Homo sapiens: one gene and its partner. The protein of the gene in region 1 purifies or fractionates together with the protein of each later gene. This does not show direct contact. Each region holds a gene or a part of one and is shown in the gene's direction. Other genes may lie near its edges.

Region 1 (3,703 bases):
ATTAGCCAGGTATGGCGGTCTGTGCCCATAGTCCCAGTTACTCGGGAGGCTGAGGCAGGAGAATCACTTGAACCCAGGAGGCAGAGGTTGCAGTGAGCTGAGATCGCGCCACTGCCTTCCAGCCTGGGCAACAGAGCAAGACTCCATCTCAAAAAGAAAAAAGAGTACTACAGGTTGGGTATTCCTTATCTGGAAATGTTTGGTACCAGAAGTATTTTGGATGTAGGATTTTTTTTGGGTGGGGGTGGTTTTGGAATATTAACATATACATAGTGAAATATTTTAGGGATGTGATCCAAGTCTAAACATGAAATTCATTTATGTTTCATATACAGCTTATACACCTAGCCTGAAAGTAATTTTATACTATGTATATATATGATATATATTTTTTATATATATATATATATTTTTTTTTTTTTTTTTTTTTGAAACGGAGTCTCGCTCTGTCACCCAGGCTGGTGTGCAGTGGCGCAATCTCGGCTCACTGCAAGCTCTGCCTCCTGGGTTCACGCCATTCTCCTGCCCCAGCCTCCTGAGTAGCTGAGACTACAGGCACCCGCCACCATGCCTGGCTAATTTTTTGTATTTTTAGTAGAGACAGGGTTTCACTGTGTTAGCCAGAATGGTCTCGATCTCCTGACCTCGTGATCCGCCTGCCTCAGCCTCCCAAAGTGCTGGGATTACAGGCGTGAGCCACCACGCCCAGCCATGCCAGGTATTATTTTTAGGAGGTTGAGAAACGTCAAGTGATCTGATCTAGTATGGCTTGAAATCTCAATCTTCATATCAAAAAAGAGTTTAAAAGTATAATCCTCAAAGTTACTTTGTCATTGCCAAAGAAACATTTCAGGGTTTGGAAAAACTGCTTTTTGTGTTTCATAAGATTTTTTTTTCTCATAGGATCTTGACTGGTTCTTATGATAAGACTTCTCGGATCTGGTCCTTGGAAGGAAAGTCAATAATGACAATTGTGGGACATACGGATGTTGTAAAAGATGTGGCCTGGGTGAAAAAAGGTTAGGACAGTTTGCCTACACTTAGAGGAATCCTAGATAGGGATTTGGAAATAAGCCATTTTTGGTGCTGGGGAAGAATGGGGAGTGGGTGGGAAGTATCTCATACCTCAGTTATTATGAGGTCTTTCAAAAAATACAGTGTTCAAGAAGAAAAAGATTATATAAAAAATTCATAAATTGTTAGAAGTGTATCTTTATTAAAATTACATCAGATAATATACATTTTCAAGTTAATATTGAATGTATTACATTCATCTTTTATTTTCTTCTGTTTTTGTTTGTTTGTTTTGTTTTGTTTTGTTTTGTTTTGTTTTTGAGATAGTCTCGCTGTGTCACCCAGGCTAGCGTGCAGTGGCATGATCTCGGCTCACTGCAACATCCACTTCCCAGGTTCAAGCGATTCTCCTGCCTCAGCCTCTCGAGTAGCTGGGACTACAGGCACCTACCATCACGCCTGGCTAATTTTTGTATTTTTAGTAGAGACGGGGTTTCACCATCTTGGCCAGGCTGATCTCGAACTCCTGACATCATGATCCACCCGCCTTGGCCTCCCAAAGTGCTGGGATTACAGGCGTGAGCCACTGCACCCAGCCTGTTTGTTTGTTTTTTGAGGCAGAGTCTCACTCTGTCGCCCAGGCTAGAGTGTAGTGGCTCCATCTCAACTCACTGCAACTTCCACCTCCTGAGTTCAAGTGATTCTCCTGCCTCAGCCTCCTGAGTGGCTGCAATTACAGGCGCCTGCCACCACACCCGGCTAATTTTTATATTTTTAGTAGAGGCAGGGTTTTGCCATGTTGGCCAGGCTGGTCTCAAACTCCTGACCTCAAGTGATCTGCCTGTGTTGGCCTCCCAAAATGTCAGTATTTACAGGCGTGAGCCACCACACCCAGTCATCGTCATCTATTTTTGAAGAATCTTTTCTTTATACCACATCAGCCTTTTAAAACCTGGCCATATGAGTTATCTTTTTAACATCTTTTTCAATAACAACAAAAAAATTTAGTTCTTTGGTTTCAGAACATGATGTATTCTAAATGGTATACTGATTTGTTTCTTATTCTTGTGTTCTCCTTTCTCCAGATAGTTTGTCCTGCTTATTATTGAGTGCTTCTATGGATCAGACTATTCTCTTATGGGAGTGGAATGTAGAGAGAAACAAAGTGAAAGCCCTACACTGCTGTAGAGGTCATGCTGGAAGTGTAGATTCTATAGCTGTTGATGGCTCAGGAACTAAAGTAAGTAGCTAGAATATTATTAGTACTCTGTTAAATTTGAATTTGAGCTTGTTGCTAAACATTTTCTTCTGCATATATTCATTGTGTTGGCCTAGTTTCCTAACAATCGGTGACAAAAGATAGGATTTCAAAGCAAGAGTAAATACTCATACAATAGGAGATAGTCACTTGCTCAGTTTGAATCCCTGGTTTAGAACCTTATATAAACTCCAGAAATTTTAAGAAATGAGGTATGGGCCGGGCGCGGTGGCTCACGCCTGTAATCCCAGCACTTTGGGAGGCCGAGGCGGGCAGATCACCTGAGGTCAGGAGTTCAAGACCAGCCTGACCCACATGGAGAAACCCTGTCTCTACTAAAAAAAAAAAAAAAAAAAATAAGCCGGGCATGGTGGCGCATGCCTGTAATCCCAGCTACTCGGGAGGCTGAGGTAGGAGAATCACTTGAACCCGGGAGACAGAGGTTGCAGTGACCGAGATTGCACCGTTGCACTCCAGCCTGGGCCCAACAAGAGTGAAACTCAGTCTCAAAAAAAAAAAAAAAAAAAAAGAAAGAAATGAAGTAAACAAGCCATTCATTTATATAACCTTCTTACCTCATAGTAATTGACATATTTCCAGTCTATATCAGCTACTCTTAAGTGCTGTCATCAACTGAAAACGCCTAGTTGATAGTCTGAGCATTAGCATACACTAAAGTTAGTGCTAATAGAGTTTTACTATAGTATCAATCTACTCTTTATCATGACAAAATGGTAAAAGTTAGTTAAAAGGTAACAAACCTGAGGGCAATACCATATTGATTTATTAATATGAAGGGTTATAAATCCACTTAGAATTTGAAAGTTTCCTAAGCCACATTGAAGTATTCTGGACTTAAGAGTGTTTCTTTGACAGTTAGGGTAACAGGATGCTTGTATTCAAAGGTGAAGATTTATGATTTTTCATATTGAGCCGAAAAGTTTTATATGTTGTTTAGTCCAAACTTTAGTGGATTAACTGTACCTCTTCTTTTTGGTTAAGGAGAGATAGAAACTCAACTTGAACTTATTTAACCTTAAAAGTAAATGGATTGTGAGATCCAAGGAAAGATTGAACAACCACATCACAAGAAGGGTAATGGTGCATTTGGGCCTCAGGAACCAGTGGAATAGAGGCTTGAATGTGGTCCGCACACCCTCTCGCTGTCTTGTCCCTCAAGTTGACTTTATTCTCTCTCACTTCAGATTGGCTTTCTTCAAAAGACATGGCAATAAGCTTGGCCTTCAAGATTTCCCAGATTTTATGTTCTGTCCTATCTGCCCCTGGAAAAAGGCTAATTTCAGTTCTGTGGAACACAAGTTCTTTGAAAAGGTCCTGAATGAGGAAGAGACCTACTGTTGTAGGCAAATAATATGAATCATATTACATATGTCTTTTCCCTTCATATACATCTGTTTAGTTTTGCAGTGG
Region 2 (3,703 bases), on another chromosome or scaffold:
CGTGCTGATACCTTACTGTGCTGGTACCTTGCATGAATCATCACCTCTCTTTGGGGTAGTTCTGCTGGGTGGCTCGGCATCGGTCCCTTCTGTGGGTGCCTCAGAAGGGTACAGGAGGGCCAGGTGACCTGTTAGTAATGGAGCGTTTGCTTCCTAGGTAAAGAAGCTCTCTGTGAGATTCTAGAGGAACCTGGTTACAGGGGATGCCTCTAGGAAGAGGGGGCTGGGGCAGGGGACAGAGATAGATTTACCTAGCTCCATTGTATACCACTTGAGAACTTTTACATTTTGTATCCTGTGAATGGTTACCAACTCAAAAGATAATTCTTTTTTGCTTGTTTGTTTGTTTGTTTTGGAGATGGAGTTTCGCTCTCGTTGTCCAGGCTGGAGTGTGATGGCTCAATCTCTTTGCAACCTCCGCCTCCTGGGATCAAACGATTCTCCTGCCTCAGCCTCCCAAGTAGCCAGGATTACAGGCATGTGCCACCATGCCCAGCTACTTTTTTGTAGTTAGTAAAGACGGGGCTTCACCATGTTGGTCAGGCTGGTCTCAACTCCTGACCTCAGGTGATCCACCCACCTCAGCCTCCCAAAGTGCTGGGATTACAGGCGTGAGCCACCGCGCCCAGCTCAAAAGATAATTCTAAAGTCAAGGGAGAACATCTTATCTACAGAAATGAAGCAAAGCACTGTCTCCATATTGTCATGTCAGGAATAAGCACACGGAGGCCCACCTAGATTCCCCTCTGGTGCATCCCTTTGGTGCACTCAGAGTCATGGTTTCCTCATCCATTGAAGAGCAGAGGTACTCCGGCCTCAGTGGCTACAAGAATCTAGTGACGATGGGACAATGTGTATAGAGCAGTCTCACACAGGGCCAGGCCCTGTGCCCAGGAAGTGTCTGTCATCTTCCTCCTCCCCATCTCATCCGGCCCTGCACCCCCCTCCTCTCCCACCCACGGTTTGAGTTTACCCATTCAGGACCCCCTCATGACTTTATGACTCCTGGTTTCTTCTCAGAGAAAGCCACAGATGGCTCCCTGCAGAGCGAGGACTGGGCCCTCAACATGGAGATCTGCGACATCATCAACGAGACGGAGGAAGGGTAAGGGCCCCCCAAGGAGAGGTTGGGGGCAGAGACGGCCATCCCACCACGCAGCACACTCCTGCACCCTTCCAGGGAGCCCCTGCCCCAGCCCCATTGCTGCCATAGCCACCAAGTCTGACCCAACCCGCTTGGCTGCAGAGGCCATCTGAGCCCCTAGTACCTGAGCCCCATCCAAGGTAGGAATTCACAGCTGGCCCCTGGGGGCTGCCACCCCACCCCGCCTCTCTTAGTGGCAGCCCAGATTCCACACGGATCTGGAAGCCCAGCCTTGTGTGCAGCATCTGCCTAGGATGAGGCAAGCTGGAGACTCTTAATCAGAAGTTGACCCCAAGCGCCATCTGCATTCTGCAGGCGGGAGTGTGTACTAGAGAGACTCCGGCTTTTCTGCGAGCAAAAACAGACTTCCATTTCCTTAAGATTTGAAACCAGCCTGGAGGGTAAGGGAGATCACAAGGATGGCAGGGAAAGTGAAGCTGAACCGTGAGCCTGAACAGCACTGGCGTTTGCCGGGCGTTTCTGGTGTTGGGGTCACGGTATCGTCTTGCTCAGTGCCAAGGAGCCCTGCCAAGGCACATGGTGTGGGGGAAGGATTGGGGTCTTGGCCTCCAATGTCTGACTCGTTGTCACTGACCAGCCGTGTGACCTTCGGAAGTCACTTTACCTCTCTAGGTCTTTGTCCTCGAAGGTGCTCTGTTAGATCCTTCCAGCAATAAGCCCGAGTCCCTGGAGGGAGCAGAAAGGGGATGCGAGGGTCCCTGTCCTCTCAGGAAAACCCAGCGAAGGCTGGGCAGAGGTGTGGGAGCCGTGGGCAGCAGGAAGTGCTGCCAGACGAGGCCTCCATCCTGAGAAATCAGTGTGGACCCTCCTTTCCCTCTCCAGTTCTCACTGGGATCATCCAGCTCTCCCGCGGCCAGTGCAGGGTTCCTCTCAGCCCGGGAGGGCTTTGCGTGGAGAGGCGCAGGCTGGATGCAGGTGGAGGGCAGGGAGTGCCCAGCTCTGAGCTGGAGGGAGGCTGTGGGCATCTGAGTCACACAGTCAAGGCCCAGTCAGGAGAGGGCAGTGGCTGCCAGGAACCTGCCGGTGTCTTCCTCAGCCCTGCTCCCTGATCTTGCCAAGGACTCATGAGAGTGAGGGTGAGGGAAGGAGTGGTGGGCAGAGGTCAGAAGAAAGAAAGCAGGAGGCAGAAAACCTCACCAAGCCTCTAGACAGGCCTGGGAGCTTCATGGACGTCGCAGCTGCAAGTCACTGCAGTATCCTTGGGGACAGCAAGCCCCCATGTCCCTTATAAACATGGGAGGAACAGGCTCGGCGTCGGTCAGGTGCATTGCTATTTATTTGAGCACTTTGTGTGTTCCAGGCAACACAGGAGGCACTAGGGACCCAGCAGTGATCAAAGGCAGGCATGACCCTTGACCTCACCAAGCATGGCACCTAAACTTAGCCTCGTTGCTAAAGTGTCTCCCCCACTGGGTTGTGGCCTCCTTGTCATACACTTTGTGCTCCCAGCAGAGTACCGGACATCATGGGCCCACAGCAGTGGCAAGGCCAGAACTTCCGATTCCCAGTGCTTCCCTCTAGGGAGAGAAGGCGTCCAACAAGGACGCTGTCCCTGCGCTCTAGGAGGCTTCTTCTCTCCCAGGGTGGGCCCCCAGGTCAGTGGCGCATGGCGGAACATGCCAGGGAATGATTCTGATTCCCTTGTGTCTAGGCCACCCTAGAAGAGGTGGAAAGAAGTCACTATAAAGCGCTGAAGTAGCCCGTGGGTCAGTGGCCAGGCCAAGACCAGGAGCCAGGGACGGGCGAGGGGCTGCCCAGGGAGGCAAGGGTTGGAAACTGCTCTCAGGCTTCTGGGCCAGGACCCCCCTTGGTGGGCCACCATCCCTTTCCCCACCGTGTCCCTTCCACCGCAGGCCTGACCGCCTCCATAGCTCTAGCCCCCAGGCAGGCTCTGTCCCTAGGAAGCCTTGCCTCTGCCTTCACTCCTGCTGAGAACCAGTGCCAGGGTTCCAGGCTCTCCTGCCTTAGTCCTGGATGGGGTCAGCACTGACAGCCAGGCAGACAGCCGGATGGGTCCCAGTGGCCACTGGCCAGGCTGAGAAATGTTACTTGTGCTTCAGTAGTGTGATGGGCTCTAGGAAGGGAAGCTGTCCAAAGAGAACACCATCCCTGCCCTCTAGCAAGCTTCTTCTCTACCCAGGGTGGGCCCCCAGTTCAATGTGGCATGGCAGAACAGGCCAGGGAGACTGGAGGACCTGGGAAAGTGTTGTGGAAGGGGTGGATTTTAGCTGAGGCTTCACCTCATGGATGTGGAGGTCAGGAGCCTTCAGGGTGCAAGTGGGGGCCCTGCACAAAGGCTTTTAGACAAGAGCAGTCAGGGCAGCACTGAGTATACCTGTATAGGGCCGAGGGTGGAGGATGGTGGGAATCACAGAGGGGACAGGGAGAGCAGGCTGGCACCCCAGCTTCCAGGGGCCTCCCAACACCGTGACCCCTAGGCTTCTTCAGCCCTCCCCGACCTCCCCCACACTCAGTGTGGCCTCCTCTTAGTTCCTCCAAGGCATCAAGCTCCTCTGCACCCAAGACCTTGGTCCAGGC

The links. The genes of interacting proteins can lie anywhere in the genome.
Region 2: the proteins of WDR12 (region 1) and TOM1 fractionate together in Homo sapiens (co-fractionation; one large-scale study listed by BioGRID). This does not show direct contact.

What each region holds. Positions count from the first base shown.
Region 1 is NC_000002.12:202,894,616-202,898,318, reverse strand, and holds part of WDR12 (ribosome biogenesis protein WDR12), read left to right. Parts: intron 1-903; coding exon 904-1,019; intron 1,020-2,099; coding exon 2,100-2,254; intron 2,255-3,692; coding exon 3,693-3,703.
Region 2 is NC_000022.11:35,316,857-35,320,559, forward strand, and holds part of TOM1 (target of Myb1 membrane trafficking protein), read left to right. Parts: intron 1-1,020; coding exon 1,021-1,105; intron 1,106-3,703.